7 linked regions of the Homo sapiens genome follow. The protein of the gene in region 7 purifies or fractionates together with the protein of the main gene of each other region. This does not show direct contact. Each region holds a gene or a part of one and is shown on either strand. Other genes may lie near its edges. The genes, in order: DAB2, L1TD1, PIP5K1C, OCRL, CLCN7, INSR and AP2A2.

Region 1 (3,500 bases), on a different chromosome or scaffold from region 7:
TTCAGTTAATAATGCAGTCGTTAATTATTATATGGTTATCATTCAGTTATTTATTTACCATTTGATTTTACTGAACTCATTGGGAATGGGACTACACAGACCTTGTAAAAGGAGCAAAAGACATTATAAAGATGGGATAATTATCTTAATAATTTTCAAGAGAACTTAGGCATAATTCCTTTCTGCCTTATTGATAATTTAAAATGTTGGTAAATTGCTTGGCAGCTTATTTTTCTTACATTAAAAATACATATATTATCATCCTTATATTCCTTTAAAGACTTAAAAAAAACTATGATGAAAAATGTCCCCAACTCCCACCTCCCATATTCCCATACGTTTCCCATAACGCTGTCAATTTTGTACTTCTAACAGTTTATTTTCTCCCCACCTCAACTCCATACACAGTTGATTGTGGAACATGATTTTGCTCAAAGGAAGTAAGAATAAGACAGGACAGAATATTACATACATGATCAGTTGTAGTATAATCAGGATTTATATTACTTAAATTTTGGAGAGTCTAGAGCATATTTGGTCATAATTAGAACTAGCATTCTTCATCCTGTATTCCTTTCTTTTCTCAGGCCCTGAAAAGACAGATGAATATCTCTTAGCAAGGTTCAAAGGCGATGGTGTAAAATATAAGGCCAAGCTGATTGGCATTGATGATGTGCCAGATGCAAGAGGGGATAAAATGAGCCAAGACTCTATGATGAAACTAAAGGTAAAAGGGAAATGAATGCTTTATCTGTATATTAAGCAAAAGTCCAAGAGAGGGAATTATATTAGAAGCTCTTGTTGACCTATTGTTCAATTACTTGAAAACTGCTTTTAATCACATTATCCATCAGTAGTGCCCCATTTTCTGAGAAACCGTGAGTGTTTGCATATTTGGAGGGATGTCCTAGATACCTAATTTTATCAAGTATAATAGGACTCTAGATGCCTTTTCCTTCTGGCAAGCTCAACATTAGGACGAACCAAGCGTATTCCTATTTCTATTCCTATAAAAGCTGTGTGCAAATATTTGCATTGCTTGTCTTACTATATGTGGAGAGCACGGAATATCCTGTTTTAGACCTGGGAATTGTTCTGATAAAATTGAGGATTCTACTTAGACATTGGTGTTCCTTAGCGCTAGCCTTTCTGTTTTTTGAATTTAAAAATTTAGTACTATGGCACTATGTGAAACTGACTGAATAAATAATACTTGTTCAATAGTTCAAGGCCTAGAAGAAACATCTCTAAAGATCTTCTAGTTGAGCTTTACCAGTGACTATTCTGAGGCCAAGAGAATTAGAGTGACTTGTCCGAGTTCGCACAGCTAACTAAGGGATGCCCTGGTTCAACGTCTTCTATGCCGTCTTGCTGTCCCGGATGAAAAGTGCCGAATCCTCTCATCGATGGCAGATCAAGTCGAAAACAAAGCTGACTGACTTTGAAAATTTTAATATTAAAACCATTGTAGGATGTTTTTAAAAATTCAACTTCTCTTGTTTTTCCACCCTCATCAGGGAATGGCGGCAGCTGGTCGGTCTCAGGGACAACACAAACAAAGGATCTGGGTCAACATTTCCCTTTCTGGGATAAAAATAATTGATGAGAAAACTGGGGTAAGAATTCACATTTGCTGATACCTCTCTGACCACCTGAGTCTGACCAACAATTTGCTACTTGAATTTCGGCTCCCCTTCTTCGTTCTCAAAGTTCTGTGGGGAACAAATATATCATATATTACATCTCCAGAAGTAACAGGCAGAAAACAGAATAGGAGGTAAAAGTCAAGATACTTGATTTTGAATTTGTGTTCTATAATAAATGTGAATCTAAGTCTGTTAAGTCTGTTAATAGGCTTAGATTCACATTATGTCTATAATATATAAATATATATATTTTTGAAATTAAATAAATATATATAATTTATATAATATACAAATATACATTAAAATATAAATACATATATAATTTATAAAGTAAAACTTCTATATATATATATTTTTTTTTTTTTTTTTGACCTCGGGTATACAGAACTAGATTAATTTTAACCCCTAGTTTGTGACACTTTTATGTATTGCTTACATGTGAACTTACCGGCTAACCTAAAGCTAGAACCTCACCCATAACACATCTACCTCTTTTTCATTTCTTTTTTCCCTGCCTTCTCACCTCACAGATGTAACCTTGTTTTTGTTGGTTCCTGTTGTTCTATTACTTGTGAACAGTCTTACTTATTTTGCCTTGTTTTTAAGCCTTATCAGAAAGCTATTTATCATACATCAAGTCTTCTGTGATTTTTTTTCTGTACTCAATGTAACATCATAAGACTCATGTTTTTTAAAATGTTGTGTGTGGCTCATTTTCATTGCTATAAAATACTCTCTCGCATCACGATACTGTGAGGAGACCTCCAGTTACTATTCATCCCTTTCTAGAGTGCCCATTATCTACCATGCAAACCTAGGGCCCTGGCACCCTAGTGGACCCCACTCAGCCTGCTAGTGCTGGGGTCCTCAGGCACCACTCTCTTTATCAGTCGCCTTTATCTGTCAACTCTTATTTTCCCAAGCCCATCAGAGAAAGGTGGCATGTTTCTCTCACCCTTCTGTGTCTCCTCAAACTTTCTAAGATACTCTAAGATATCTTAGACATTCAGGACAAAAAGCCAAGACACACTCTGCCACCTACAAATATCCCTAAAGAGTTCAACCTTGTTAACTGCTTGAAAGGATCAAGAAAAAGGAGGGAAAAATAGAAGAAAAGACACTAAGCCAATACAGTCCCCACCCCTTATAATTCCTGGTTACTGATGTAGTCATTATGTCATTAACATACTGTAGTTATTACTACATTATGTTACTATGTATTAGGCTGTCTAGGTGAGGCTGAGAAACACTTGATGACAGTATTTGGTATCCTCCAGAATATACTGGGAATACGGTTCCAATAACACATAGGATGGTTCCTCGGCCACTCTGAGCCATCGTCAATGAATCCCTGTGAACACTCCTCTAGCTTAGTTATGCTGTTCTTTTAAGTTTGTCTTTGAGTTGGGAAAGTAGACCTATTTGGCTTGGCTTAAGGGCTAAATGTCTCCTCTTCACTTGGTCTTCTAATCCTCAGTCCTTCCTGGCTATGTGGCATCATGTCTTTAAAGCAGGGAGAGTAAAGTATCAATATTTTAAGAAGGAACATTCTTCCCACTTACGTTTTCTATTCTTCTTTCTTTTGAGCCCTTTCTAGAAAGAGTAATGCTCTAGCCTTCAACCAGAAATGAAAAGTCTATCTTCAAATGGTTTAAACTTTTCATATATGCCTTCATATATGTGTCTGAGGCTTCGGTGTGCTAGCCTGCAAATAGATTCTAGTTTTCTTAATAAATTACTCTTTATGTTCTTTTTTAAGGTAATAGAGCATGAACATCCAGTAAATAAGATTTCTTTCATTGCCCGTGATGTGACAGACAACCGGGCATTTGGTTACGTGTGTGGAGGAGAAGG
Region 2 (3,500 bases), on a different chromosome or scaffold from region 7:
CCTGGGCGACAGTGAGACTCTGTCTCAAAAACAGAAGAAAACAAAACAAAACAAAACAAAACCCTGTAAATTACTTGAATGCCCACTGCTGAGGGAATTACTTATTGAACCAAAATATGTTCAAAATATGGCATGTCACACATAGAAGAGTGAGGTGTGCATATATAACTGGAAGATTACAAATGGCCTATTGAAAAAAAGAAAATAGTGTTAAAAGTATAAAGCTATTAAAAAAAAGTAAATGTCCCCATACCCAAGGAGAGAGACGTACTAACTAGAAGTCGAAGTTGGCATTCTCCTTTATTGTCCTCCCATGCACCCATAAAAACCAGGCACTTTATCTTGGTATGGTAGCATGCCTGTAATACCAGCTCCTCAGGAGACTGAGGTGAGAGGATCACTTGGTCCCTGGAGTTTGTGACCAGCGAACAGTGATCACACCACTGCTTGCCACGCTGGGCGAGAGTGAGATCTCAAAAAAAAAAGCAAAAACACAAAAGTCACCTGTACGTTGTGAGAGATACCACACCAAACTTTGGGTGGCCTCAGAGGTCAGATAATAGAGACTGAGGTGAGGGACTAGTAATTGTTCTTATTTAAAAAAAAAAAAAAGAAGAAAAGAGAAGTCCATAATCCCCCCAGCAAATTCAGAAAAACACACACACCGACCCCCCGCCGCCGCCCCACCCCGCCGATAAGAACAGGCTGCCAGTGTTGAAAAGGTAATACACCACAAAGGAAATGCAAGCAGATAAACATATGAAAAGATGGCAGTCACAAGCCAAGGCAATGCAAATCAACAAGCTTTTTTCCATCCCTAAAATTAAAGGAAGTTTATCCGCCCTCCCAACCCCCAGTCCCTTGAGGGAAGTGCTAAACATTTCTTGCCCTTTCCAACCGGTGCTCTCCTGTATTGTATACTTTTAAAGTAACCTCCTTAAAATACAAAGCAGAACTTGGGAGTACACTGGTGAAAATCTCCGGTCTCCCTAATCACTTTTTTTTTTTTGGCAGGGTCTTGCTCTGTCACCCAGGCTGGAATGCAGTGATGCAATCATAGCTTAGAGTAACCTTGAACTCCTGGGCTCAAATAATCTGACCGCCTCAGCCTCCCAAGTAGCTGGGACTGCAGGCAGAAGCCAGGACGTCTGGTCCCTGAGCCCTTTTGATGGCTACCATCCAACCCTGAGACAAAATTTGCTAAACTTGTACCAGCCTCTGCTTTCTTCTTGATCAGGGATTTTGAACCCAGAGTGCCTGGGTAGTGTCTGGCTAGAATTCAGAGTATCTGATATCTTGGATGTGAAAAAGGTCACATATATTTATTGTCATTAAACGCTAATCATAATTTAGCATTTAGCATTTGAGGCTGGGAGCAGTGGCTCATGTTTGTAATCTCAGCACTTTGGGAGGCTGAGGCAGGTGGATCACCTGAGGTCAGGAGTTTGAAACCAGCCTGGCCAACATGGTGAAACCCCGTCTCTACTAAAAATACAAAAATTAGCCGGGCATGGTGGCGTGTGCCTGTTGTCCCAGCAACTCAGGAGGCTGAGGCGGGAGAATCGCTTGAACCCAGGAGGCAGAGTTTGCAGTGAGCCAAGATTGTGCCACTGCACTCCAGCCTAATCCACAGAGTGAGACTCTTGTATCAAAAAAAAAAAAAAATCAGCATTTGATACAGTTAACAACAAATAATAAATCCCACCGTGCCCGGCTGTAATTTTCAGTTTTAAGCCAGGCATGGTGGTGCGTGCTTGTATTCCCAGCTACTCAGGAGGCTGAGACAGGAGTTTGAGTGTAGCCTCGGCAACATCGCAAGACCCTGTCTCTTTTAAAAAAAATAACTTAATTTCGAGTTTCTCATTGCACCTGTCATGTACTATAGAGTGACTCTTGGAAAACACATTACCCAAAAAAGGTAGTGTTAGATAATAGGGCACTGGCCAGATTAATTACTGAAAAGGTCAAAAAATCCCCAGGGTCACTATGAATGTGGCCAGGGTGGATATTTGCCCCTGCACTGGCTGTAATCAGGGTGTTCAAACACTGGAATGTGTTTTGATTTGCATTCTCCTGACTAATATAATCTTTTTGTGTTTACTGTACATATGGTTTTTGTATATGTGTTTACAAAATTGGATTGTACTCTATATTTTCTGCACCATTTTTTCCCTCTAGTATACCAAAGACATCCTTAACCAATGGGTATGATTCTAATATACTCTTATTATGTATGGTATAATTTTTATATGTACGTTGAACATATTGTATGCACCATATAGAGTATATATATCATAACATGGTGTATATATATATAACAATGTATATTATGGTTATGATTATTTGAGACGGAGTTTCACTCTTGTTGCCCAGGTTGGAGTGCAATGGCGTGGTCTCAGCTCACTGCAACCTCCGCCTCCCGCATTCAAGCAATTGTCTTGCCTCAACCTCCCGAGTAGCTGGTGGAGCCCGCCACCACGCCTGGCTAATTTTTGTATTTTTAGTAGAGACGGGGTTTCACCATGTTGGCCAGGCTGGTCTTGAACACCTGACCTCAGATGATCCGCCTGCCTTGGCCTTCCAAAGTGCAGGAATTACAGGCGTGAGCCACTGTGCCTGGCCATAATGTATATTATAATGTATATTTTATAAATTAATGTATTTATGTACTTATATATAGTTATATCTATTCTATATAATCCCATCGTGTGCATAAATCATCATTTGTTCCACCCTTCTCTTATTAAAGGACATTGTTTTCTAGTATTTTTTGGCCAGAAAAAACTCAGTACTAAAATTTCTATTCATGTATTCCTAAGTGTACAGGTGGTTTCATTCCTAATGGTAGATTCTCAAGGGGAGAGTATATGTATTATTTCTGACTTTAATAATAGGCTTTTCGTTTCCTGAAATGTTTAATAACTATTCCTACTTCTGATGGGTAAAAGTGGTCTCATTGTTTTTTTATTATGTACTCAACTCCTGGGATTGGGCCACCTTTCACATGTTTACTATTGATTTACATTGTCTTTCCTAAAAATATTTTATTTAGTTTTAGTTTATTTGTTTTATTTTATTTTTATTTTTACTTTTTTTTTGAGATGGAGTCTTGCTCGCTCTGTTGCCCAGGCTGTAGTGCAGTGGCGTTAACCCTAATTCAACCTCTGTCTACCGAGGTCAAGTGATTCTCCTGTCTCAGCCTCTGGAATAGCTGGGATTACAGGTGCCCGCCATCATGCCCAGCTAATTTTTGTATTTTTAGTAGAGACAGGGTTTCACCATGTTGGCCAGGCTGGTCTGGAACTGCTGACCTCAGGTGATCTGCCCTCCTCAACTTCCCAAAGTGCTGGGATTACAGGCATAAGCCACTGCAACCGGCCTCAAGTACATTTATTGTAGCGTTTATTGGACACAATAAAGGCACAATTGTTATCAGAAAAATTTGTCCTTATGTGCCTGTAGAAGTTTACCCTTGTTTTCAGCTTTCTGTGTCATCTTGG
Region 3 (3,500 bases), on a different chromosome or scaffold from region 7:
TTGGGAGGCTGAGGCGGGCGGATCACCAGGTCAGGAGATCAACACCCTCCTGGCTAACACGGTGAAACCCTGTCTCTACTAAAAATACAAAACATTAGCCGGGCGTAGTGGCGGACGCCTGTAGTCCCAGCTACTCAGGAGGCTGAGGCAGGAGAATGGCGTGAACCCGGGAGGTGGAGCTTGCAGTGAGCCGAGAACGCGCCACTGCACTCCAGCCCGGGCGAGACAGCGAGACTCCATCTCAAAAAAAAAAAAAAAAAAAAATTTAAAACAAAGGGAAGTCACTTGCTCAGAGGCACACGGGTCTAAGCGGCCAAGGCAGGCTCAGCCCACACCAGGCCCTGGGACCACCCTGCCCAGGCTCCCGGAGCCTCCACCTGCTTTGGGGGTCCCCACTGCCTGCTCACCCCACATCGGCACACACCTGCCACAGTGCCTGGGCTCCCAGTCCTGCTCTGTCCTCAGTCCTCGCCACCCCAGCCACCAGCTCCAGGGCCCAGGCCAAAATCCTTCCAGGCCCCTCGTCTGCCTCCAGGCACCGGTGGCACTCACCTGGACACCTGCCCCAACCCCACAGAGCACTGCCCACGGACCATCCCCCACCAGGCGCTGTGAATCGGGCTCGCCGCCCCACTCAGATGCCCGTGCCACCCGCTGTCCTCAGGTCCGACCCCACGCGACCCTCTCCCACCACGTTGACTTCACTTCTGCGGCTCAAGTGGGTGCAGCAAGTTCCCACCCCACGGCCTCGGCGCGACTATTCCGCTGCCTACATCGCCTGAGCCACAGCCCACCCTTATTCAGCTCGTGGGGACAGTCACCTCCCTCCGAGTCCTCAGCTGCCGCAGGCCTGGCCACTTGACCTCCCAGGTGCCCTCACCACACTCATCACCGCCCAACGCAGCCCGGCTCTGGGCTGGGCAAACATCTTCCGTAAAGGACCGGGCAGCAAGTGTTTTCGGCTTCGTGGGACACGTAGCCCCAAGCATGGCCACTCAGCTCCCAGCTCTGCCGCTGCAGCGTGGGGGCCACCAAGGCCGGCAACGGAACAAATGGTGTGGCCGTTGCCAATAAAACTTTGTTGACAAGAAGCGGCATGGACAGATTCGGGTGGGGTCTCACGTGGCCACTTGTTCCCATCTGCAGCCTGACGCCCAGCAACCTGAGGGCTCCAAGGGGTCAGCGAGGCAGTCCCGTTAGCACCAGAAGACTGGGCACCCTGAGCCCCACCTGGCCCACACGAGGTGCTCAACAAAGGTCTGGAGCCCAGGAGTGGAACTCACACTTTCACGAGCCGACTCCCATGGCGGACCCCAGCGCCCAGGTGAGCTCGCTTGGCACCTGGGCCCCGGAAGCAGCACACGAAGGGGACTCCCTCTCCTCCAACAGCAACCTGGGACGGAGGGGGCACCCAGCTTTCTCACGGGGCCGGCTGCCTGTCCCGTGCCTTCTAAGGGCTTTACCCCATGATTCTCCATGCAGCCCAGGAGAAAGGCAGCCATCACGCCCACTTTACAGACAGGTACACCGAGGCTGCACATCCCCGGCTGGCATGCAATGGCGCTGGGTGTGAACCCAGGAGGGCCGGCCCCCGAGGCCTCTCCACTGGGACACCCAGGCTGTGGTGGTCACAGTGCCTGACCTGCATCCCGGGAGGCGGCCAGGGCGGGAGAGAATGGGGAACTTTCCGTCCCCAGTGTCCTCAGCCTCCGCCTGGGCCCTGCTGACTTGCAACAAGAGACACCACAATCCCACTGACCCTTTTTTTTTTTTTTTTTTGAGATACGATTCTGCTGTCACCCAGGCATGCAGTGGCACGATCACAGCTCAGTGCAGCCTCAGCCTCCCAGGCTCAGGTGATCCTCCTGCCTCAGCCTCCTGAGTAGCTGGAACTACAGGTACATACCATTACGTCTAGCTACTTCTTTTAATTTTTTTTTAGTAGAGACAGGGGTCTTGCTATGTTGCTCCAGGCTGGTCTCAAACTCCTGAGATCAAGTGATCCTCCTGCTTCAGCCTCCCAAAATGCTGGGATTACAGGTGTGAGCCACCGTGCCCGGCCTCCCTGACCTTTTTACACAGACCACCACAGCTACAGGGAGGCCCTGGTGGCGGTGCTGACTCCCTGCCCGGCCGCCCTGTGACCACACTACACTGTGCTCCAGGCAGGCGGGGCCTCTGCTGGGGCCATGCCCTCTTCCTGCCCAATGCCCACAGGTCTCCCTCGGATGCCACCTTCTTGGCAAGGCCTTCCCAGCCACCCCATTCTACCTTACCCTTCCTCCCTGGCACTGCTGGCCTCATGCACCTGATGTTCACCAGGATCTGCACTGTGCTGAGCTCTTCCGGGCGCAGGGGATGCCGCAGGAGTGGCACAGACGGTCTTGGCCCTCGTGGAGCTCTCGCTCAGGAGGAGATGGTCAGAAAACACGTCAGCAGAGCCATATGTTTCAGGTGGTGACAAACGCTATGGTGGCACAATCAGGGAAGAGGAACCGGGAGGGCAGGGGACGGAGAAGGGGAGACCGCTGTGTGGTGACAGCAGGGCAGGGAGGCCTCACGGAGAGGAGATGCTCCCACAAAACCTGGAAAGCGCTAAGGGAGCAAAGGACACAGATGGGAGGAGGGGCATTCCGGGGTGGGGGTGGGGGGCAGCCGTGCAAAGGCCCCGGGGCAGGACCATGCCCTGCATGCTGGAGGAACAGCAAGGGGCCCATGGGCCTACAGCAGAGTGCAGACGGGAGGGCAGGGAGGGCAGAGTGCGGAGGGGAGGGCAGGGAGGGCAGGGAGGGCCCGGGGCAGGCTGTGCAGGGCCTGATGGGCTTCAAAGAGGACTATGTCTTTGACCCCAAGGGAGGTGGGAGCCATGGAGGGCTGCGAGCAGAGGAGGGTCGGGACTCGGGCCGCTGGTTTTTAATGGGGTCCTCCTGGAATGTGGGACAGGGAGCAGAGGAAGAGCAGGGGCGCCAGGCCTGGCTCAGGGGGCAAAGGAGGACTGAGCTGGACCGAGGAGGACTGAGCTGGACGGAGGAGGATCGAGCTGGACCGAGGAGGACCGAGCTGGACAAAGGAGGACTGAGCTGGACCGGGGAGGACCGAGCTGGACCAAGGAGGACCGAGCTGGACCGAGGAGGACCAAGGAGGACCGAGCCAGACGAAGGAGGACTGAGCCGGACGAAGGAGAACCGAGCCGGACAGAGGAGGACCAAGCTGGACTGGGGAGGACTGAGCCGGATGGAGGAGGACTAAGCTGGACCGGGGAGGACCGAGCTGGACCCGGGAGGACCGAGCCAGATGGAGGAGGACCAAGCCGGATAGAGGACCGAGCCGGATGGAGGAGGACTGGGCCGGACGGAGGAGGACCGAGCTGGACCGGGGAGGACCGAGCCAGACAGAGGAGGACTGAGCCAGACGGAGGAGGACTGAGCTGGACCGGGGAGTACTCAGCCAGACGGAGGAGGACCGAGCTGTACGGAGGAGGACCGAGCTGGACCGAGGAG
Region 4 (3,500 bases), on a different chromosome or scaffold from region 7:
ATAGTCTACAGTAGGTTTTACCAACAGTCTTTTTTAAAAAAGGCAAAACATCATGTAAATGAACACCAAACATATAGCCAAAAGGAAATTCCAGAAGTGTTCTTTACCCAATGCAGTAGATATCAGGAGGATTGGGATCACAGTTCAGCCAAGGTTCTAACCCGCTATCTGGAGACTGGCCATTCACATTCCAAGTTCCAACAAAAAATCTAATACATAATACGAAAAGATAATTTGAAAACAAAGATCAAGTATAAACCAACAGAAGTTCTTTCTTTTCGCTTCCATACAAAGGTATGTTCACAATATGCTAACATAATTCCTCAAAATGTTTTGCCACATATGTAAGAAAGATCTTTTGCATCTAGAACACAAAGGCAGTGGGCTTATTTTCTCTAAATTTTACATTAAGTAAAACTACAGAAGGAAACCAAGTCTTTATTTTTAAAAAATGCAAAGGTAATTGCTATACCACATTTCCTTTCAATTAAGCTCCATCCAAACTCATACTTGATAGGAGAGCTTATGGATGGGAAAGAGGTATCTTCATGCTGTAAGCTAGTCAAATATGGATAAATGTTCTATAAGGGGCTATAGTTGACTCCAGGAACTCACTTCCTGAAGGATTACAAGGACATCTGTGTAGGAAATTCTGATGAGGCAGACATAGTATTAAGGGGGAAAGCAGAAGGGAAAACTCATGACTGTCTTAACTGTTTACACACAAATATAAGCATAGTGGGGGATATGAGGAACTGCAAGTTTTAGCATAGGGATATAGTTATGACTGAATTAGAATAAATGAGGTATGACAGGATAGCAGATGGGACTAGAATCTTGGACTAGAAGGGTACATTCTGCTCATGAATAACAAAGAAATGTGGTGTTGCTTCATGCATTGGCGATACATGCCACATGGTACCTCACATGCAGCATACACACACAAGTCCAGAAAAAAGATGAAATAAAAAATAATACAGATAAAAGAACCCAAGATAGACCTCCCAATCAAGAGGACTGGGTGAAACTTTCTTTATTTACCAAAGTAAGTAAGTTAAGAGCTAGTGGTAATGATGGACTTTAATTTTCTAATATTGGCTGAAAAAAAAAAACTTAACAGGCCAGATATATAAACACGCTTGCTTATGGAATGTGCTAGGGGAAAATTCTCTAGTACATGTGACCTTGATTTGGTTCTCTAGGACTCAGTAGAGACATTAGTAGACATGGCATTATTAGTAGTTAGAAAATCCAAGGGAAGGCCAAGCACGGTGGCTCAAGCCTGTAATCCTAACACTTTGTGAGGCCAAGGCGGGTGGATTGCCTGAGCTCAGGAATTTGAGACCAGCCTGGGCAACCTGGTGAAACCCAGTCTCTATAAAAAACACAAATATTAGCTGGATGTGGTGGTGTGCACCTGTAGTTCCACCTACTTGCAGGGCTGGCGTGGGAGGATTGCTTACGACTGAGAGGTTGAGGCTACAGTAAGCCATGATCTATCTGCTCTCCAGCCTGGGTGACAAAGAGAGACCCTGACCCACACACACAAAAAAAGAAAATCCAAGGGAAACTGTAGCATCTGCATTATTTCTGATATGCATGTTATTGGCCAGCATAGAGACAGGAGCTTGAAACAGGCAACCATTCCTTTTTATCATATTTTGATTCTTAATTAGGCTAATGTCTTAAATATCAACAGGCCACTGTCTGTTATATATACTAACTTTTTAGACTCAGGAAGCAAAAGAGACACTAACCTGAAAGTCTGAATGTTGACATATTCTTTCTCTCGCTTTGCCAGGATATGTTTGATGAGACCCTCCCGCTGCCCAGATTGGGTATTTGGTACAAAGAGCTTCCGCATGGTGTTGGTCACTTTGGGCTGCTCCTTGTTAGAAGCTTCTTTTTCACGTGGAAGCCTAGCAAATAAATGAGAGATTCAAAAGTAAAATTGTTTAAACTATAATTCTCCTACAAGGCAAATATGTTTTCACATGGGACTTACATTTTATTCACTGAAAAGGGTGGAGGTGGGGGTTCCCGATGAATCCCAGTAGGCTGATTTTGTGAATTTATTTTCTTGTCCAAATTCATAGAAGAAAAATTGTCTTCAAATCCAAGAAGCCCTGAAAGACACAGACCCCAAAGTCAAACGGGGAAAAAATCTAACATCCAACATATCCAGGGTAACAGGGCTTTGATTTGATCACAATTTGATCAGTGGTATTACTAAACAGAAAACTATCATAAGGGTAGAAATTACTTGGATTGGAGTTCGAAGAAGCATACCTATCCCTGAAGCACTGATATACTAACTAGAACAATAGAAGTTTATAAGAACTTGGAACAGACTAGTAATAGCTAACATTTATTGAAGACTGAGCACAATGCCTGGTTGAGAGTAAGGGACTATATCATGATCTCACTTAATCATCACAAAAACTCCAAGAAGTAAGTACTATTAAAAATCTTCCCATATTACAGAAAGGAAAAGGGAAGTTCAGAGTTGTTGAGTAACTTGATGAAGGTTGTACAACTAGTAAGTTCTTGACTTGGGATTCAAATCCAGGCTGTCTGGCTCTCGAGCTTGTACTTTCTACCACCCTGCTAAGCTGGCTCCTGAACAGCTACCATGCTACAGGAAGGATAAGGAGTGAACACTGGTCAGTGGGCCTGGACTTGATAAAACTACTCTGCAGGAGAATGTGTCTGACATCAGCTTTAATCTACATCACCATATTTGGCCTGACAAAATCTACTGACTCTGCAATGACCATAGCAACAAGGAAACCAGGAACTTTTTAGTACCTGAAAAAACAGAAGGTTTGTCCTTAGTGTCTAATTTCTGGTACCAGCTAGATGAGTCCTTTTGCTCTGGAACAAGAAGCTGTGACTGAGCTAGAGAGATAAGGTTCATGGTCAGAAACTGGGAAGTCTTTCACTGAGTAGAATTTACTATAGCCAAAAGCCATTCTTTCAACATTCCTTATATGCAGGGGCCAGCACCATTTTTGGATACAGTGGAAGAAACTAAGGAAATGAGGGCAGCTCTGGGGTCATCTAGGGGCAGAAGGAGAATTATAGTCTATGGTAAGCTGTGCTTGCCATGACACTGAATATTCTGAAAACTTGCCTAGTGTCCTTAAAGCTGGGCAGATTTTTTCCCTAACCTATCCCTGTGTTCACTCCTGAAGAAAAAAAAATCAGCTATCAGGGCTTAAAGGGTGAGGTATTTTGCCAATGGCCACTTTCCTCTGTATCAGCATGTCAGAATTCCACTCCCGTTGAAATAGAAGAAAGAAAATCGCTGAGTCTTTAGTTACCTTTCTGAGCAGCAAGGACAGCTGAGAGGAACTTCAAACAGTGTTCCTCATCAGGGATTTCAAAGCGGCGCTCTCTGATCCAGTCCCCCTGAACCCGAATTTTGCAGCCACCTAAAAAGAATTGAAATCCATACATATACTGCTATGGGATAAAATGTTTTACTGGGATCATATTCT
Region 5 (3,297 bases), on a different chromosome or scaffold from region 7:
CTGTGGGGGGCACCCTCTTCCCGGAGCCAGGCTGCGAGCTGCACCACGGTGCACACCCATGGAGTGTAGACCTGGCGCTGCTAGACCCAGCTGGGCCGCCCCGCTGGACGCGGCTCCTGCTTCTGCTGGCATCAGGGCCCCGCAGAGCCTCTTCCCCTGTGGCCTCCCCATGGGATCCTTTTAGCCTTTCTGCTTCCCAGGGAGGCTGAGAACAGGGAGCCTTCTGGGGACCGCTGGGCTCGGGAGCTCAGGTTGCTGGGCTCCTGGAAGGTGACTGTGAGGCCCGAGACTGGGCAGCGGGGCAGGGCAGTCCTGCGGAGGCGGGAGTCGTGGAGGCCCCGTCAGCCCCTCTTCTCTCCTAGGCTCCTACAACCCCCTGACCCTCGGCCTGTTCACGCTGGTCTACTTCTTCCTGGCCTGCTGGACCTACGGGCTCACGGTGTCTGCCGGGGTCTTCATCCCGTCCCTGCTCATCGGGGCTGCCTGGGGCCGGCTCTTTGGGATCTCCCTGTCCTACCTCACGGGGGCGGCGGTGAGTGGGGCCGGAGGGGAGGCTGTGGGGCCCTGCAGCTGAGCCAGGTCTTGCGGCATCGCGGGCCGGAGCAGAAGTCCCAGGGCAGGACAAAAGTGTCGCACCTCACGTGGTTCACGGGCCGTGGGCGTTGTCCTCGCGTGGTTCACGGGCCGTGGGCGTTGTCCTGCTGTGGTGGCAGCGTGTACTGTGGCAGCGCAGCCCATGTGTGGAGTCTGGACCAGGCGAAGGTAGGGGGCGGAGGCTCGTGTCCTTATTCTTGAGAATGTGATGAAAAGCAGAGGTGATTGTGGGCTGCTGCAGAGCTGTTTCTAGACTCCATGGGGTGGATGTCCGGCCAGGGCTGCTCTCTGTGAGGCCGGGGGCCAGAGCGGCATACACTGCCCTCCAGACCTCAGCCCCCGCAGGCCTTCCTTCTCTGCCTGCCTCTGCTGGGACTGGGTTCTCTTATGTGTCTTCTGTTTCTCATTTCAGTCGCTTAAATAAGACTGAAAACCTGTAAGAGGCCCTGGCAGGAAGCCCCCGGCCATGCTTCTCATCCCCGGCAGGAAGCGCCCACTCCTGCTCCCCAGGCCCGTGTGCTCTGCCCATCTCCCTCCGCACAAGGGTTTGGTTTGGTTTTTAAAATTGAAACATGATTCAAATACCGTAAAACTCATCGTTTTAAAGAGGGCAGTTCAGCGGCGTTTCTCACGTTCACGAGGCAGTGCGGCCGTCACTACCACTTCTAGAATGTTCCGTCATCCCAGAATGGAAACCCTGTGCCCACCGACCCTCGTGCCCCGCTTTCTGCAGCCTCCATGCCTGGGTTCTGTGGCCCAGCCTGATGTTCCCGGGGCTCTCTGTGTCGTGTGTGCCGGGGTTTCACTCCTCATGCTGGACGGTGCTCCCTAGTTGGCCTGGGCTGCTGCGTGGTGACTGTGCCCTCTGCATCCTCCATGCCTGCCACTCCCCTGTTGCTCGGGTGCTGAGCGCCTGGTTCAGGCCAAGGATGCAGCCTCCGCAGCAGGGTGTACTGTGCTAGGTTGTTCTGTGTGTATGTACGCGGCCACGAGGTTTGTTCCTGGCTGTGGGGCTGCTGGGCCTGGGCAGGGCCTCCTCCGTCTGTGTATCTTGGTGGGTTTGGGCCTGCCACCACACTGACACCTCCTCCGTGTCACCTCCCACAGATCTGGGCGGACCCCGGCAAATACGCCCTGATGGGAGCTGCTGCCCAGCTGGGTATGTCCCAGCTCTTGCCCGATGGGTGGGGAGCTCCACGGGGTCTGGAGGGGGCCATGGCTGTCCTTGCGGGGCTAGGGTCTGGGAGCAGGTGGATGGGATGGGTGCTGCAGAGAAGGCAGTGGCCACGTGACCCTGAGCCAGGAGGGTGGACGTGCTGGGGTTCATGATGGCTCCCGCAGGCGGGATTGTGCGGATGACACTGAGCCTGACCGTCATCATGATGGAGGCCACCAGCAACGTGACCTACGGCTTCCCCATCATGCTGGTGCTCATGACCGCCAAGATCGTGGGCGACGTCTTCATTGAGGTGCGCCAGGGCCTCGAAGCCTCACCCTGAGAGCGTGGGTGCTGCCATAGGGGAGGGGCCCCTGTGAGCCTCCAAACAGCCGGTCCCGGGGGGTAGGCTCAGGGTTTCTGGGGGCGGCCTCTGGGCTCCCAGGGGTAGGCTCGGGGCTCCAGGGGTGGGTGTGGACTCCTCAAGCCCTGTGTTCCCGCCCCGCCCGCAGGGCCTGTACGACATGCACATTCAGCTGCAGAGTGTGCCCTTCCTGCACTGGGAGGCCCCGGTCACCTCACACTCACTCACTGCCAGGTACAGCGCCCAGGACACCTGTGGGTGGGGAGGGTGTCCAGCGGCCTCTTGTTGCACAGGGGCAGGGTGCACGGCTTGCGGGCTCCAGGCAGCCCCGCGTTTCCTGTCCAGCGGCTTCACACCTCACCAGCCCGCAGAGGTAACTGTGGGAGTTGGTGGCGTGTGACGGGCATGTGTGGCCGGGCTCCTCCGGCAGGGAGGTGATGAGCACACCAGTGACCTGCCTGAGGCGGCGTGAGAAGGTCGGCGTCATTGTGGACGTGCTGAGCGACACGGCGTCCAATCACAACGGCTTCCCCGTGGTGGAGCATGCCGATGACACCCAGGTACCGGGCACCCCATAGACAGGGTCCTGCCTATGTGACCTCTGTCGAGTCCATTGGTGGGAAGCACACGGCAAGGTTTGCAGGATGGGGAAGCTGCACGTTTGGGTGCACTGGCAGTTCCAGGAGTGCCGGAAGCTGAGTGTGCAGCCATGGAGGGCTGTGTGGACGCTGAGGCTGGTGGGGGGGGCTGCGGCCTGGCAGGGTCTTGGGGTTGGCACCCAGGCTGGGCTGAGAGCCGTGGCACTGGGGGCCGTGACTTTGTCAGGAGGCCCTGACAGGACACACAGCTCGGCCACTGCTGTGTGTCTTTTAGACGTGGACACTGGGTGTTTGGAGGTTGGTTTTTATTGGGACCCAGTGGGGCTGCATCTGCCCTGCAGCAAAGCCACCATCCCTGGGCCCTTGGCTCTCTGCTGTGCGCGGTCAGGCCCCGCTACCCTGTCGCCGATCCTTGGGTCCCGTGGCATTGTGCGTGTGGGATGCCATGGCGAGGCTGGTGTGAGCAGGTAGCCACCGACACGGGGCCCATGCCCAGATGGGAAATCTGGCCGGAACAGGGTCAGAGCGGGGCCCGACACAGCATTCCAGCGCAGCCTCCCACCCTCGGGCCCGTGGCCCTGACC
Region 6 (3,500 bases), on a different chromosome or scaffold from region 7:
GAAGCTGGGAGGCGGCTAACTATGGGGTTTTGTTCTGTGTTGTGAATATTTGACAATTTTTCATAATAGGATGAAAAATATAAATATTCCCATCAAGTGGCTTGTTGCTACTGCCTCGTCTGAAACTATAAGCCTCAATACCCAGCTCCTTTAAAAGCCAATAACTGACTGGGCAAGGTGGCTCACACTTCTAATCCCAGGACTTTGGGAGGCCGAGGCAGGAGGATCACTTGAGGCCAGGGGTTCAAGACCAGCCTGGGTAACACAGCAACGTTCTGTCTCTACAAGAAATACAAAAATTAGCTGGGTATAGTGGTGCATGCCTGTAGTCCCAGCTACTCAGGAGGCTGAGGTGGGAGAATTACTTGAACCTGGGAGGCGGAGGTTGCAGTGAGCCGAGATCATGCCATTGCACTCCAGTCCGGGTGACAGAGTGAGACTTCATCTCAAAGAAAAAAAAAAAAAAAAGCCACACATGGTGGTATACTCTGGTAGTTCCTTCTACTTAGGAGGCTGAGGCAGAAGGATTGCTTGAGCCCAGGAGTTTGAGGCTGCAGTGAGCCATGATCACCCCACTGCATTGCACTCTAGCCTGGGTGACAAAGTAAGACCCTGTCTAAAAAAAAAAAAAAAGCCAATAACCATATCAAGGAGCATTTTATACAACCTCACTGCATCAGCCTATTAAAAGCAAGAGGTCTGATTCACATACGAATTCACATTCCCAAGACACACTCACTGGTGGCATCTGTCTGGACATAAATGATGTCACTCTTGGCCCCATAGGTCCGGCGTTCATCCGAAAAGGTGACCAGGGTCTTCACAAAGATGGCATACTGGGTCCAGGGCTTGAGACCCCGCATCAGCCACCCTGGGTGGTTCTGTGATTTGGGGTCGTTGGACCTCAGGGGTGGGTCAATGTCTACCACCGTCCAACTGTTGGAACCACACGCATCCTGCCCGTCGAACTCCGTCACATTCTGATAAGGGCTTTCAAGACAAAACAGCAGAAGGCAGTTACCCTTACAAGACCGTCACACTGAGTGCCGTGCAGATGAGGCCTGGGAAGTTACATCCCATAGGGTCACATGTTACTCACCCAACAATCTAATGCCACAAGAAAAAATAACTCGGGAACAGCCAAAGAGAAAGGAACTGTCAACCCTGACATCTCAATGAAAAAACACAGCTTGGGCATCCCTTATTCAAAACACTTGAGACTTGGCCAAGTGCAGTGGCTCACGCCTGTAATCCCAGCACTTTGGGAGGCCGAGAATGGCGGATCACCAGAAGTCAGGAGTTCGAGACCAGCCTGGCCAACATGGTGAAACCCCGTCTCTACTAAAAATACAAAAATTATCTGGGCATGGTGGCAGATGCTTGTAATCCCAGCTATTCAGGAGGTTGAGGCAGGAGAATTGCTTGAACCCGGGAGGCAGAGGTAGCATCAGCTGAGATCGCACCACTGCACTCCAGCCTGGGCGACAAAGGGAGACTCTGTTTCAAAAACATAAATAAATAAATAAATAAATAAATGCTTGGGACCAGAAGTGTTTTGGATTTTGGATATTTTGGGGTTTTGAAATATTTGCATTTTACTAGTTAATTTGCATTGTACTGGTTCAGCATCTCTAATCTAAAAATCTGAAATCTGAAATGCTCCAATAAGCATCTCCTTTGAGTATCAAGTCGGCCCACAAAAAGCTTTGGATTTTGGAGCATTATAAATTTCAGATTTTCAGATTAGGGATACTCAATCTGTAATAATAGTAATAGCAGGAGCTCCCTCACAAGTTACTGATAAGATTAGACTGTGTGTCAGTGCTCAGCAAGGCACAAGGTAAATCTTGAGGGCTAGAACTATTATTAATATTACTACTGGTCAGGTGCGGTGGCTCATGCCTGTAATCCCAGCACTTTGGGAGGCCAAGGTGGGCAGATCACCTGAGGTCAGGAGTTTGAGACCAGCCTGGCCAACATGGCAAAACCCGTCTCTATCAAAAATACACAAATTAGCTACGTGTGATGGTGTATGCCCATAATCTCAGCTACTCAAGAGACTGAGGCAGGAGAACTGCTTGAACCCGGGAGGCAGAGGTTGCAGTGAGCCAAGATCTGCCACTGCACTGTACCCTGGGCAACAGAGCAAGACTCTGTCTCAAAAAAAAAAAAAAAATTGGGGATAAAAAAGAAAAATAGATAAGCAATACATTTGATAACATCCACTTAGTAGACTGAGCTCCTGACTACTAAGGATGTCTGATGAGACATACACAGGCAAGGCAAAATAGAATATTGCCCCAGGAAACTGGCCAGTCCGGGCTTCTATGGGAAAGCTGTCTGCTTCCATTTTAGGCATTTGATAAAAGCAGACACTATTGACTTTGCATGCCATCGACTGGTGAGATTGTAAAAAGGAACCTAAGATATTTATTCCAGGAGGAGGAGGGAGATAGACAGGAACCCAAGAGGGGCAGATTGGAGCACAAACGTAGCAAGCACAGAGCCAGCCAGCCCTCGCCTCCTCAGCGTCTCTCTAACTCTTCTACTTACGCCTCTTTGTAGAACAGCATGAACCCCAAGAGGTCTCGGAAGTCGGGGGGCCAGTACGGCTCCCATCTCAGCAAGATCTTGTCAAAAGATGTCCGAATGTAAGAAAATTTAAGTAACTCATTTTCACCTGGAAAAGTTAAAACAAAAGGCAAAAATGAGCTATTTCAGTGTAGTTTCAGACCAAAGCCTGGGACCCCCACACTTCCTGGAGGGACCGTGAGAAGGCAGAGGTGACGCTGCTATTCCCTTAAGGGTCTCCTCCCCATGTGCCTGGCTGAGTATGAATGGGGGAAGATTCAAAGGTAAGAGCCAGTTTTGCAACTTGGCCACTCACACTCACGTAAGCCAATGACTTGACTCAGCCAGACAGTCAACTGAATAAGCGCAGTCTGTACCCGCGCAAGAAGGACAACCGGCCAATAGTTATTGGAGGAAGGGATTTCCAAGGGTGATGTTTGTCCTGACACAACGTTGTCTCGCATATGGACTTGTAAGACTGACCTGGAAGGAGGTGCAACTCCAGTGCAAATAAACCTATGCCAAGTGAGTTTAGAGACCCTGCAGATCATTAGACATCGGAGAGACGCATCTAAGTAATTCTCTCTGCCTAGAAGACAAACCCTCTCCTAAACCTCACCCCAACCTCGCTCTCTCTCCTTGCACTACATTTTTTTTGAGACAGTCTTGCTCTGTCACCAAGGCTGGAGTGCAGTCCACCTACCGGGTTTAAGCAATTCTCATGCCTCAGCCTCTCAAGTAGCTGGGATTACAGGCACCCACCACCACGTCCAGCTAGTTTTTGTATTTTTTTTTTTTAGTAGAGATGGAGTTTCACCACATTGGCCAGGCTGGTCTCGAACTCCTGACCTCAAGTGATCTGCCTGCCTCGGCCTCCCAGAGTGCTGGGATTCCAGGCGTGAGCCACCATGCCCAGCCCTTGCACTACA
Region 7 (3,436 bases):
CTCGCCTTTGCTGTTTCTCACAGTCCACAGCAGGAAGTGCAGAACATCTTCAAAGCAAAGCACCCAATGGACACAGAAGTCACCAAAGCCAAGGTAACACGTCTGGAGGGACGGCCCCGGGGGACACGCAGCCCGTGACCCCGCGCCAGGGTCTGGAGGGACGGCCCCGGGGAACACGCAGCCCATGACCCCGCGCCAGGGTCTGGAGGGACGGCCCCGGGGGACACGCAGCCCGCGACCCAGCGCCAGGGTCTGGAGGGGCGGCCCCGGGGGACACGCAGCCCACGACCCAGCGCCAGGGTCTGGAGGGGCGGCCCCGGGGGACACGCTGCCCGCGACCCCGCGCCAGGGTCCTCATTCTCCTGTTTCTTTGGACAGATCATTGGATTTGGTTCTGCACTTCTTGAAGAAGTTGATCCTAATCCTGCGAATTTCGTGGGAGCTGGAATCATCCACACGAAAACCACCCAGATTGGATGCCTGCTGCGCTTGGAGCCGAACCTGCAAGCCCAGGTCAGGCCCTCAGGAAATGGTGGAACACACTTGAGTTGCTTTTTATTCTGGCACAATGTACGTGGTGAGATGTGTAGCTCTTTAGTGCAGTTCAGTCAGTTTTGACAGATGTTGTTTAACCACCACCCTGTCAATACATGGTTGCCTCCCAGCCTCCCCGCAGCTGGCCACCGTGGAGCATCATCCCTAGTGCAGTTCAGTCAGTTGTGACAGATGTTGTGTGCCTGTTTAACCACCACCCTGTCAATACATGGTTGCATCCCAGCCTCCCCACAGCTGGCCACCGTGGAGCATCGTCCCACCATGGAGCAGCCTGGCCCTGGGCGGTGGCTCTCCCAGCTGTTCCTCTCTGTCACCGCGTTGTTCCTTCTCACCACGTCCCGTTCTGGCGACGGACACCTGTCTCCGTTTCACTTGGGTGGCACCCAGGAGTGCTGCTGTCGCCCAGGGCCTGTGTGTGGTTAGTGCTGCAAGAACATCCCACAGCTTCTCCAGGTGGCCGTGCCACTTTGCACTCCCGCCAGCTACGTACGAGACGCCAGGCGCTCCCATGCCAGCCCTCAGTTTTCATGCTGACAGTGTGTGTGGTGCTCAGGCCTCTGCCGAGTTGTGGGTGCCTCCAGAGAGTGGTCCCTGGGCATGGCCCACAGGGTTCTGCATGGCGGATCCTGGACCCGAGGGCTGTGTGAGCCTCGGCGTGCCCGTTGACCTGCTGTGCTCTCTGTTTCAGATGTACCGGCTCACGCTGCGCACAAGTAAGGAAGCCGTTTCTCAGAGATTATGTGAATTGCTCTCAGCGCAGTTTTAGTCCTGAGGATGGAAGACCAGGCTCGTGTGTCTTGTGTTGTCTTCGTCTGTGCCGTTTGTCTTCGTGGCCATCCTGCAGATGAGCACCGTGTCCAGTGCCACAGCACAAGGCGCCTCCCCGCCCCGCCGCCCCACACCTCTCCCCTTTGGGCTGGACGGGAACACACGTGTGTGGCTCAGGAGGAAAAGCTCAGCCTGGACTGTGGCAGCCACGGCAGAAGGTGGATCTTGGGATCAATTTTTATAAAAATCGAGACAGTTCTGTGGTTAAATCTACAAATTAAAGGGAAATTAGAAGTTGGCGTGAACGTGGCGTTTGTGGGAGTGTCACTGAGATGGCCCGTGCTGCCGCCCACCCCGCCTCGGAGCCTCTGGGAGCAGCAGTGCCACTGTGCATGGCGTGGGCTGAGCCTTGGTGTGTGGCCGTCCTGGTGGCTGCACACCTGGCGTCGTCCTGGGCCCTTGGGAGGAGCACAGCTGACCCTGGTTTTGCTGCAGTCCCAGCTGGACTGTTTTCCCAGGCAGGATTTTAATCTAGAATTTAGAAACATTTGTATTTGTAATGACTTCTGGCAAAAGCACGTGTCCTGGCCGGATGTAACTGTTCTCCTTTCCCAGCTCCTGTTTGTGAAGGGCGTCTGTTATGCTCCTGCAGTCGCCGAGGCCTTGGATGTGCAGCCAGGGGAGGAGCGTCCTGCCGGCCCCGCAGGGCCCCCAGGACTCCAGGGTAAAGTGTGGGCCGGTGGCGCAAGACTCAGAGGTGTGCTCGTCTCTTTCCTGTCAGAGTGGGCGTCCCCAGGCCACGGTGCAGGCCTGAGTCCTTCCACCGGCCCCGTCCAGTCGTCCCTGGAGGGGCTGTGGAGGAGGGACGCCTCTGTGTGGTCAGGAAGTGAAGGGGCCATTGGCCGCATGCCATGTGCCACCTGCGGCTTGTGTCTCACCTGTCATCTGGACTCAGCACCCAGGCTGCACGTCTGACACCTGAGAGGCGAGAGAGTGGGGCCGGCCTAGGAGCCAAGGCTGGGGCCTTGCGCTCTGTCCCCAGGATGGTGGCCTTGTTTGTCCTAAACACACCCAGCACAGGTTCTGGCTTCCTGACATGCTGTGGAGGCAGGGAGGGTGGGTGGCCACATGTGCTTGAGGGTTTTCACCCTGGCCCTCAGTTGCCTGCTGTGCGGGTCCCTGGGGCAGCTGCAGGGGCTCATGGACCCATCAGGGTCTCCACAGCTCCCCTGCAGTGTGTGCACCCCACAATGTCTGCGGCTCTTCTTCCGGCGTGTCGGGCTTTGATCACAGCATAGCCACGTCAGTGGCGTGCGCCTCTCGCACAGGCCATTCTGGGTCTGGTGGTGCCAGGTGCCGTGACACGCCGTGCTGGGCTTGTGCTGCAGCTGGGTGGTGTGGCCCTCATTCTCATGTTCCAGCTGCTGGGCAGTGCTCTGCCTGTGTGCTGCGCCTGCAGGCTGCGTGTGCTGCCGTGGATCTCCTGCATCCCTTGACCCCTCCCGCCATCAGAGGAAAGGCTGCTCCCCGAGGCACCGCTTCCCTGTGCGGCGCTGCAGAGGGGCCCTCAGTGTGGCACTCCTCGTCAAAGAAAAATAAAGGCTAGAACTGCACCCCGGATCACGCGCTTTCTTTGGGGGGAAAGCATCCCATGTAACCCTCATAGCTCCCCGGGGGTCGCGTGAGGCACAGACCCCAAGGTCCCCGACCTGTCCTTCAGCAGTGGGCTCACGGGCAGCGGGCATCAGAAAGTGACCTGCCCTTTGCTCCGCCGGTTTGATTCTGGGTGTGTGGTGGAGCTTTTTGGGACTCAGGTCATGCGGGAACCCCTCCAGCCTGGCCGCAGGGCTCCCCACTGTACAGTGTGTTGAGGTGCAGCCCAGGGCTCCTTCCTGGGGAACGGGAGGCCCCGTGGGGATCCTCCAGTTGATCCTACCACAGATGGTGCAGAAGGGGCTCTCGGGCAGATGGGGGTGGCCCCCGGAGGACGGTGGGCTTCGCCAGAGACGGAACAGTCCTAATGGAGGGAGGGCAGGGGCCCAAAGCCAGAGGCAGCTTCTCTTACCAGCCCAGACCCTGCTGGGGGCAGCCCTGCCCAACTGCAGATCCCAGG

The links.
Region 1: the proteins of AP2A2 (region 7) and DAB2 purify together in Homo sapiens (affinity purification with western blotting; 2 studies listed by BioGRID, with this or other methods). This does not show direct contact.
Region 2: the proteins of AP2A2 (region 7) and L1TD1 purify together in Homo sapiens (co-immunoprecipitation; one large-scale study listed by IntAct). This does not show direct contact.
Region 3: the proteins of AP2A2 (region 7) and PIP5K1C purify together in Homo sapiens (affinity purification with western blotting, with the first as the bait; one study listed by BioGRID). This does not show direct contact.
Region 4: the proteins of AP2A2 (region 7) and OCRL purify together in Homo sapiens (affinity purification with mass spectrometry; 2 studies listed by BioGRID and IntAct, with this or other methods). This does not show direct contact.
Region 5: the proteins of AP2A2 (region 7) and CLCN7 fractionate together in Homo sapiens (co-fractionation; one large-scale study listed by BioGRID). This does not show direct contact.
Region 6: the proteins of AP2A2 (region 7) and INSR purify together in Homo sapiens (co-immunoprecipitation; one large-scale study listed by IntAct). This does not show direct contact.

What each region holds. Positions count from the first base shown.
Region 1 is NC_000005.10:39,390,481-39,393,980, reverse strand, and holds part of DAB2 (disabled homolog 2), read left to right. Parts: intron 1-587; coding exon 588-727; intron 728-1,517; coding exon 1,518-1,616; intron 1,617-3,405; coding exon 3,406-3,500. UniProt on the Homo sapiens protein: Adapter protein that functions as a clathrin-associated sorting protein (CLASP) required for clathrin-mediated endocytosis of selected cargo proteins.
Region 2 is NC_000001.11:62,197,849-62,201,348, forward strand, and holds part of L1TD1 (LINE-1 type transposase domain-containing protein 1), read left to right. Parts: intron 1-3,500.
Region 3 is NC_000019.10:3,693,969-3,697,468, forward strand, and holds part of PIP5K1C (phosphatidylinositol 4-phosphate 5-kinase type-1 gamma), read right to left. Parts: intron 1-3,500. UniProt on the Homo sapiens protein: Catalyzes the phosphorylation of phosphatidylinositol 4-phosphate (PtdIns(4)P/PI4P) to form phosphatidylinositol 4,5-bisphosphate (PtdIns(4,5)P2/PIP2), a lipid second messenger that regulates several cellular processes such as signal transduction, vesicle trafficking, actin cytoskeleton dynamics, cell adhesion, and cell motility.
Region 4 is NC_000023.11:129,557,259-129,560,758, reverse strand, and holds part of OCRL (inositol polyphosphate 5-phosphatase OCRL), read right to left. Parts: intron 3,435-3,500; coding exon 3,324-3,434; intron 2,899-3,323; coding exon 2,809-2,898; intron 2,127-2,808; coding exon 2,006-2,126; intron 1,920-2,005; coding exon 1,758-1,919; intron 210-1,757; coding exon 108-209; intron 1-107. UniProt on the Homo sapiens protein: Catalyzes the hydrolysis of the 5-position phosphate of phosphatidylinositol 4,5-bisphosphate (PtdIns(4,5)P2) and phosphatidylinositol-3,4,5-bisphosphate (PtdIns(3,4,5)P3), with the greatest catalytic activity towards PtdIns(4,5)P2.
Region 5 is NC_000016.10:1,447,732-1,451,028, reverse strand, and holds part of CLCN7 (H(+)/Cl(-) exchange transporter 7), read left to right. Parts: intron 1-362; coding exon 363-532; intron 533-1,701; coding exon 1,702-1,753; intron 1,754-1,935; coding exon 1,936-2,063; intron 2,064-2,262; coding exon 2,263-2,348; intron 2,349-2,544; coding exon 2,545-2,674; intron 2,675-3,297. UniProt on the Homo sapiens protein: Slowly voltage-gated channel mediating the exchange of chloride ions against protons. Functions as antiporter and contributes to the acidification of the lysosome lumen and may be involved in maintaining lysosomal pH.
Region 6 is NC_000019.10:7,165,415-7,168,914, forward strand, and holds part of INSR (insulin receptor isoform Long preproprotein), read right to left. Parts: intron 2,681-3,500; coding exon 2,554-2,680; intron 991-2,553; coding exon 740-990; intron 1-739. UniProt on the Homo sapiens protein: Receptor tyrosine kinase which mediates the pleiotropic actions of insulin.
Region 7 is NC_000011.10:1,009,305-1,012,740, forward strand, and holds the end of AP2A2 (AP-2 complex subunit alpha-2), read left to right. Parts: intron 1-23; coding exon 24-93; intron 94-378; coding exon 379-513; intron 514-1,243; coding exon 1,244-1,321; 3' UTR 1,322-2,936; downstream 2,937-3,436. UniProt on the Homo sapiens protein: Component of the adaptor protein complex 2 (AP-2). Adaptor protein complexes function in protein transport via transport vesicles in different membrane traffic pathways.